Regions from separate parts of the Homo sapiens genome. Here region 2 is linked to region 1. The links come from fine-mapping of genetic effects on gene expression. A gene starts in region 1. The other region holds a variant in brackets. All regions are shown on one strand. Distances are from middle to middle.

The links.
Region 2: its variant is fine-mapped to the expression of PAX3 in subcutaneous fat (TwinsUK, PIP 0.95).

The regions. Positions count from the first base shown.
Region 1 is chr2:222,296,964-222,301,291 of GRCh38, reverse strand. PAX3 (paired box 3) reads left to right here and starts at 2,294. Exons shown (of 9, transcript NM_181458.4): 1 at 2,294-2,761; 2 at 4,079-4,314. The coding sequence starts at 2,677. It overlaps CCDC140 (CCDC140 long non-coding RNA), which reads right to left and starts at 3,145. Exons shown (of 2, transcript NR_161172.1): 1 at 2,919-3,145. RefSeq lists cis regulatory regions at 1,114-1,668, 2,239-2,276 and a promoter at 1,663-2,694.
Region 2 is chr2:222,266,967-222,271,354 of GRCh38, reverse strand. All of the region lies in intron 4 of PAX3 (paired box 3), which reads left to right. Among named protein-coding and RNA genes, the nearest start is that of CCDC140, 29 kb to the left of the region's middle. The variant G/T (reference allele first, on the strand shown) is at 2,566.

The sequences.
Region 1 (4,328 bases):
CTGATTCCGGAGCTTTAGGTCCCCAGCACCCCCACATCCTTGTGGCCTCCATTTGTACATGTTTATAGCAAGTGACAGCTAGTTTATGAACCCATGGGCACTTAAGACCCAGCTCAGCCGGCAGTACCTCCGTTCAACGGTCCCGCGGACTCTGCAATCTACGGGACCGGGAGAAGGAATCTTGCAGCAAGCGCTTCCCTCCAGCATCTGCCGGCTCTTAGGAGAGAAAACTCCCGGCAGGAGAGAGACGGGTGGACGCTGGGAGGGCTTGGAGACCAAGCCTCCGGCTCAAAAACAAATGAGACTCAGCTCTAGATGTTCTTTAACTGCTCGCGGGGTCCAAGAGTTTATTTTAGCTGAGAGTTGAGCCTACTTTTGCCTTCTTGAAATTACACTTCTGGTACCTCCTTCACACAGCAATTACCGCTGACCCCAGAAAGTGCTCTGTCGACTCTGCTTAACCTTTGGGAAGAAGAAAACTTGGAAAAAGTCTAGCTCTCAAAATGCTATCGCTGAGAAGTGGCTTAAAACGTACGGACACAGGCTTTGGTGGCCCCAACGCCTTAAAAAGAAAATGAGAAAATTTTCCCCTTGAAAAATTGAATCATTTAATGTAAAACCAGGTTAAACAAGGCACATGCCTCCTTCATGGGTCCAGACATTTCTGGGAGTCTCCTGAGACCTGTCTCCGTGGCTCTGAGGGTCAACCAAGCCTTCTGGCATCAGGCAGGCTGAAAGCTTGCCTGGTTTCCCCAATGGTGAGTGGGTTTTTAAAGGGCCAACTTGTGGACTGCTGAGCGGCTATACCCCACACCCCCCTACATCTTGCCTTCTGAGTTTGCCTTAATTAGGGAATGGGGAAGTAGGGTTGGGGGCCCGAGTTCACGTCAAAACTGTCAAAGGAGGTGGGGGAGGGGGACAGAGAGAGAGGAGTGGAGAACTCCCTCCAGGGGCAGGAAAAATTCAAAAATCATAAAAGGAAAAGGGGGAACTTGAAGCCCAGAAGTCATTGTTTCCTTTATTTCAAAGGGAAAAACCTGCCCGATTCTCATCCTTTTGATTGATTAAGGCCCTGAATACCTCGCGGCCCCGGAGTGACAGTCCCTGAATAGGCTCGAGCGAATAAAGCGCAGTGCAGAGCGCGGGGCTGGCACTCGGGGGTGTAAAGGAGGCGAGTTCGCTGGCACTTACCAAGTTATAAATAAAAGGCTATGCACAATGGTACCTTCTCTAAGGACAGACAGTCTTTACAACACTCCTGGCGTCATATCCTGCTGGGGACACTTCAGCTCCTAGCCAAGACTTCGTTCCTTTTATTTTTCCAGCAGTTTAGTCTGAATGCCATAATAAATTCCTGAGAACAAACGCTGAACCCGGGCAAAACTTTAACATACAGACACATCTCTGTCGACGCATCGGGGATCTATATGTAGAGATTTAGAACCGCAGCTTGCCAGAGCGGTTTTTACACCAAGAAGAGGAGCCAGGTTTTTTTCTGCACCCTCCCCCATACCCCCAGCCTTCAACTAACGAGTGCTTGGGCCTAGCGACGGCTGCCTGTGCTTCACATTAGCCCCGCTTGCGGACGGAGAAGACAAAAGAACATCAGCGCACCCTGGACTCCTCCCAGGAGGAGCCCCATCGGGAGGACCCCTTAACAAGCCTAGGCCAAGGGGCACTGACCACAGGAAGGAAAGCTAAATATGTCTGGGGCCCCAGATGCCTTCTTATTGGAATTGTGCCCCCTCCAGTGGCAGTAAGCCAAGAGAAATGAGAGCGAGACCTACAGGTAGAAAAAATGAGACATAGAGAGAGACACAGGAAATCACAAGAGGAATAGAGGCTGAGCGAGACACACACACAGAGGCACAGAAAGAGACAGAGAGGGAAATAGAAAGTCAAGGAAAGAGTGATCAGAGAAAGACACACACACACACACACACACACACACACACACACACACACACACACACAGAGTGACACAGACAGAGAGACAGAGACAGAGAGACAGGAACTTCTCCGCCCTCAGCAACTGCCATCTCCCTGGGGCTGTCTCTCTCAGTTTCCACCGGGCCAACCTTCTCTCCTGGGCAAGGGGCGCAGCGCGGGTCCCCCTCGGGGCCAGCAGAGGCCTCGGCACCACCAGAGATGGGAAGAGAAAGTGGTCGCTGTTGCCCAATCAGCGCGTGTCTCCGCCACCCGGGACGGTCTACCCGTCGGCCAATCGCAGCTCAGGGCTCCTGACCAAGCTTTGGGTAAAAGAACTAATAAATGCTCCCGAGCCCGGATCCCCGCACTCGGTGTCACCACAGGAGGAGACTCAGGCAGGCCGCGCTCCAGCCTCACCAGGCTCCCCGGCTCGCCGTGGCTCTCTGAGCCCCCTTTTCAGGGACCCCAGTCGCTGGAACATTTGCCCAGACTCGTACCAAACTTTTCCGCCCTGGGCTCGGGATCCTGGACTCCGGGGCCTCCCCGTCCTCCCCTTTCCCGGGTTCCAGCTCCGGCCTCTGGACTAGGAACCGACAGCCCCCCTCCCCGCGTCCCTCCCTCTCTCTCCAGCCGTTTTGGGGAGGGGCTCTCCACGCTCCGGATAGTTCCCGAGGGTCATCCGCGCCGCACTCGCCTTTCCGTTTCGCCTTCACCTGGATATAATTTCCGAGCGAAGCTGCCCCCAGGATGACCACGCTGGCCGGCGCTGTGCCCAGGATGATGCGGCCGGGCCCGGGGCAGAACTACCCGCGTAGCGGGTTCCCGCTGGAAGGTAAGGGAGGGCCTCAGCGCGCCGCCTGGATCCCAGGGCCTGGGACCGGCTGCCTCACCCCATCCCCAGGCTCCGCAGGCTCCTTTGGTGCTTCCAGGAAGCCCATTCCCTGGGCACCCCACACCCCAAGAAGCACCAGTCGGGGGCGAGGACCTACTCGATTTCCTTTCTGCAAATGGAGCGCGCTGCTCTCTGCAAATCCTGGCGGAGCTGGGCGGTCAGGCCTGCGGCGAGCCGGGGAGACTTGTCCCTGTTGTTTTGGAAATGCCGCGGTGGAGAAGGAGGTGAACCGGCTTCTGAGCGGCAGAAGCAACTTCTCCGCAATTTGTCCATTCGAAATTGTCTCGAAGTTGTCTCGAAATTGTCCCGGCTGCGCCCACACTTGTGAAACATATGTTAGTTCAGGAAGTATTTTTTTTTTTTTGCCCTGCAAAGTTGTGGTGGCTAACGCCGCGCCATTGTGATTGGAATTTTTAGAATAATTAAATAAATTAGAATTCTATGTATCTCAAATAGCATCTAGAAGTTTCTATAACTTGTTTAGGAATCGCCTTTCCGTCCACTTGAAGATTCTGGGAATCCCGGGGAGGCAGGAAGTCTTGCAAGCCTGAGCCGTTTTCAATGGTTTTCCAGGTTAGGGCGCCCCAGCAGAGATGCTCATCGCCCCCGCCACCCACTCCCTTCACACCCAGCCTAGAGTAGAATGTAACACCCAGAGCAAGAATGGGGGCTGGGGGCCCAGGAACAGCCCTGCCGCTGCTGTGGTCTCTGTCCCAAGATGTAACAGGTGACACAGGCACTGCTGCTTGGGCCTCCTTTCTGGACCCTCTTTGACCCTTGGCTGCTGCACTTTTGGCTAGAAACCCCAAGGGCTATCAGCTGGCCCAAGTCCCTTAGAAAGGGAGAGATCCCAATTGGACAGGGATCGGTGGGAGCAGAGTTCATCAAGGCCAGCTCCTGGGTGAACTTCTCTTCGCCAGGAGGCTGTTTCTAGAGCAAGCTAGACTCTCTACCAGCTGCAGGGTCTCCTAAGTTGCCACTCCCCGGGCCCGAAGGGGAAGACGCTTTCTCTGGGGAGAATTATTTTGCCCCATTTGCTGTCTTTACACAAGATTACATGCGCTATATTGCTGAATAATTTGAACAAATGTGATTGAAAGGAGGTCTGGGTCTGGGAGTCCGATGTCGAGCAGTTTCAGCGTCGGTGCTGTAACATGAGGATAGGACAGAAGACTGCGAAATTACGTGCTGCTGTTCTTTGCTTTTTATTTTCCTCCAGTGACTTTTCCCTTGCTTCTCTTTTTCACCTTCCCACAGTGTCCACTCCCCTCGGCCAGGGCCGCGTCAACCAGCTCGGCGGTGTTTTTATCAACGGCAGGCCGCTGCCCAACCACATCCGCCACAAGATCGTGGAGATGGCCCACCACGGCATCCGGCCCTGCGTCATCTCGCGCCAGCTGCGCGTGTCCCACGGCTGCGTCTCCAAGATCCTGTGCAGGTACCAGGAGACTGGCTCCATACGTCCTGGTGCCATCGGCGGCAGCAAGCCCAAGGTGAGCGGGCGGGC
Region 2 (4,388 bases), 30 kb after region 1:
ATTTTTCTTGTGTCTTGTTGAGCTGGATTTGCAGAGGTCTTGAAGTTTATTCCACTTACGGATTTTGGTAAAGAATCCATAGGACATCAGGCTGCCCAGGTCTAGTTCTACACCAGATATAACCATGGCTTTATGAAAGGCTTTGGGGTTAAGAGATTTGTCCTGGTTCACTCTCTGAATAGTTGTGATCATGGAAAAGTCACTATGTGTTCTGAGCTGGAGTCCTTTTCAATGTAGGCGATAATATTTGCTCCACTACCTCAAAGGATTGTTGTGTTAGTGACCGCGAACACATCAGAAGTCCTGAGCAAATATAAAGTATTATTTACTTAGAATCTGTTGATTCCTTTTGTACTCATTGAAACAAGGTTTGGTAGCTGATTGATTTGCCTTCTTGCTGTCTCAGAGTGCAGTTTAACAAGGATTAAGTGGATCTTCCTGTGGTCAGTCTAAAATAGACAGAACTAATTCTATATCTAGGACATAAGGGACCTAGTTACTGGGATAACATTGCTTTATTGCAAAGCAGCACACCGCTGCATATCTAGTGAAAGACTAGTATGGGAGAAACTGCTTTTAAGGGTTTGGATTTGGGCAAAATAAGTCTTTTGATTTTCACATTGTTCTGATGTCTGTTGGCTCATGTCACAAGATTGGAAGGCCCAGCAGGCCAGGAAGGAGTTTCTCTGGAAGGAGTTGGAGATTTATGCAGATTGGCTGGCTCTCTGACATTTATTTGCTGCCCTTTTTCACTCTATTTTGGCAACTCTGAACCAGATGGATAAGCTCATGGAAAATAAGGCCAGTGAGGAGAAGATGCTTTTGATTTCCCTGAAGATAAGGGAAACCTCTCTCTTTTTCTCTTTCTTTTAACTTAGCAGCGACAATTTTATTGCACGAATGCAAAATTGGCAACTCACTTTTGGAGACCGATGGAAACATCTGAACAAGGACCTCCCTTGTACGTCATTGAGGGTAACATAAACTCTGTTTACCAAAGCATCCAGTGAGGGGAGAGAAGCCCTGACAATGGTCTGAATGTTATGTCTACCAGGAGGCCAACGGTTCAGTTTGTAGCTGAGCACCAAGGATGCTAGTCGGAGCTTGAGCTAAGATGATAATTCACCAGGACTGAAATCCTTCTTTAATCATCAACCTCTCTGCAAGGAGAATGATGAAGAGGGGAAACAGGGCTTACTATTTCACTCTGTAATCATTTATGATTTGAGCTGTATTTTACCTTGTGTTGACCTCTGGTGCTGTTGGTTTGCTCATTCTATAGCCTCAGCTACAGTGTTGCAAGGGGACAATGCAGACAGTGGCCACTGCATGGTGATTTCTTTGTAAGAAATGGAAAAATATTATCTAAATGTGTAGATAGAGAGATACAGTTTTACTATTTTAGGCTCGAACTAAATTCTTTCTACTAAAAGAATTAAGTGTTTAAGCACAAATGTTCATTTCAAAAGTAATTATGTCTTGAGCTCACTAGCACATTTTTTGTGAAGGTGGCATTTTTTCCTTCTATGTTAAAGTCATCACATTTTCCCTCTGTGCTACCCATGGCACACAATTTCAAACTGAAAATACTTTATCTCGGCATATTGTTGAACTTTGCCCTTGGAATTTAAATGTTGAAATATGGTATTAAAAATGGTGAAGGGATTTGCTGATTAAGTACGACTTTTTTTTTTTTTTATGGAAAGGTGGGAGAGAAATGTGCAGCTTGAGAATTTAGCCTTATTATTTATTTTATGTTGTCGTTGTTTGTAGACTTTTAAAAAAATTTGTTTACTCTTGTTTGTTTGCACTAATCACTACTTAAGGAAAAGTAAGTCACAGGCCAGCCTCCTCTTCACGAAGCCTTTAGCCATGGTGACCGTTCAGGCATAAAAACGTGCTTATCTGCAAATGAATGGCAGCTCTTTGCTTCATTAAAGCCCCTTTCTCTTTTGGCACTCGCATTGTGACCCTTTGATATTAATTCAAAGGGCAATTAAAGAATGCGGGCCATCTTTGAAGTAAGGCATTCAGGGCAAGGGTAGGGACGAACCTGGGCCTCTGATGGACTGTGCGCATTCAACAGGCCTTTTCAAGGCAGTTTGAAGTGAGTCAAAGAAAATGGGCAGGAGAAGGTCAAAGAGAAAAAAGGGGCTAAAGAAACAGTCCGTATTTGTTCGGAGTATTAGCCAAGAAAACTGCAAATAGCAACAAAATGAAACAGTTAATAGAGCAGCCAGACAGGGCCATGTCAATCACTTAACTTGAACAGCGTTAGGCTTACCAAGGCTCCTCCACTGTGTTACCTAATTATCTTGGGAAAAGCAGTAACTGGAAGTAATGGTATTGTATTTCTTTCTGCCTACTGCCCAGAAAAGGTGATAAATACTCACTGCTCCATAATTATGCAACATATATACATAAAGGAGTAGGAGGGGGTGGAAGAGGGCTGGGGGCTCGGAGACTGCCTTGAAGTCGGGTTCCTAGTAAAACGTCTGAATATGGCACAAATATGGCATTTTCAAACATTAGCATGCTGGAGAATCGCTTAACTCGTTTCATCTG[G/T]AGCTGGCTGAAATATGCATGATCTCTCCTGGAACAACTCTTAAAGACAAACACGCTTACTCATCTAGGAAAGTTCTCGTTGAGAAAAAATAAAATAGCCTGCAAGAGCTGTGCTCAAATAATATGAAGGATTTGGCGAACACTCCCCTCTGCCCCCCAACCCCCCGTGGAAACGAGGAGATTCAGAGTGAGGTAGGAAACTCAGCTCTTTGCTTTCCCCGTTGTGCCTGGTTATTGAAACACCCTTGGGGAGAGGCAACCGGAAAGCCCTCCGTGGTAACCGCATAGCCACAGCGAGTTGCATATGTTACCTAGAGAGCAGGCGGATAGTAGGTAGGGCTGGGGGGGTTGATTGGATATTTGATTGCTTTCTATTAGTGTGGTTAGGATGGATATTTTTGGATTCCACTTCTATTGGTCATGATAAAAAGCAAAAAAACAACAGAAGCCAAGCACTTCTTTGAAAGTGTGAGCAAACCGGTTGAAAAACTATTTCCAGATTCCCCCAAGGGTGTATGGGTAAGGGAGGAGGAACCCAGGCACGCACATACATGTCTGCAGATAGGTCGAATATGTGTTTGTAATTGCAAAACATGACCAGCCTTTAAAGAGGCCCCCAGGACTCTGCTCAGATTATTTGCAATATGGGCTGCTACAGATTGTTGTTTGATGTTGCATTTGTGCATAACAGGTTTTGTTTGGAGGGACAGTAATAGATCTAAAGGATCTGTTATGCAGCTTTTTGACATACTGTTACAGAATGTAGCTATTAATATAAAAGTTATGGCCTTTGTAAAAAGTCCATTATTGAACTAAGTACTCAGTTGCTCTGCATTTTAACAAAACAGTCATATACTGATGCTTGAAAACTTTCCTTTTCTTAAAAAATTCCAATTTGCCAGTCACCCAGGGTAAGTCGTATATAATACGACGAATCACAAATTATATGATTTTTAAAAAACATATTAGCAACTTCAGCTACTCAGTAGGATCAACCAATAAATTATGCCTTCTGCCTCGTTTAATGGTACAGCAGAACAATGTTTGAGTGGTTAGGGGGTGTCACTATCTCAGAGACAGTCAATAGAGCAGTAGCTGCTTAACTAAACAGGAATCACGTTGGTGGCATTGCAAATTTCCTTAGGTGTCTTGGGAAAAAATACCACAAAATGTCCCAAATAATAATAAAAATGTAATTTACAGTAAATTATAAAATAAGGGGAAACTCAAGTAATAGAATAAGCTAGGATACTTTTACCAATAGTAAGCAGTAACTCTCTTCCACTTACAGAAAGAATAGATTTTTTTGCAATAATTTTGAAAAAGTGTTTTATTTAAAAAAATACATAGCATATTTTGATGCCTTTTGAAAGGGTGACTAAAAGTCATATATCTGGAAAGATTAGGAAGTGTCCATCATCTTATAATACTGAAAATATTGATGTACCTTGTAGCTCACAATCAGTGACGTGCAAAGGGAAATATGGAGTACTTTTTAATTGTATTCCTCCTCATACCTCCTTGGTGACTTGCAGATTTTCATCAACTTTTGTCCTTCTAGTCTCTTTTTTCTTACTCCTTTTCCATGCAACTCAAAAATGTGTGCTATGAGGAGTGAAGGCTGGGGAACAGTGGTGAGAGAGAACACTTTGAGTTACTTTTTGTCTCCCATTTTAACTTTTCCCACCTTCTTGAACTATCAGTTAGAATCATGTGCAATCTCCGGGTAAGAGTGTGGCTGTGAATAAATTTATCAAGATAAAACTGGTCACTTGTTCTGTTTATGCTTTGGTGAATTTGGATTGAAGTGGCTCTATCCAGCT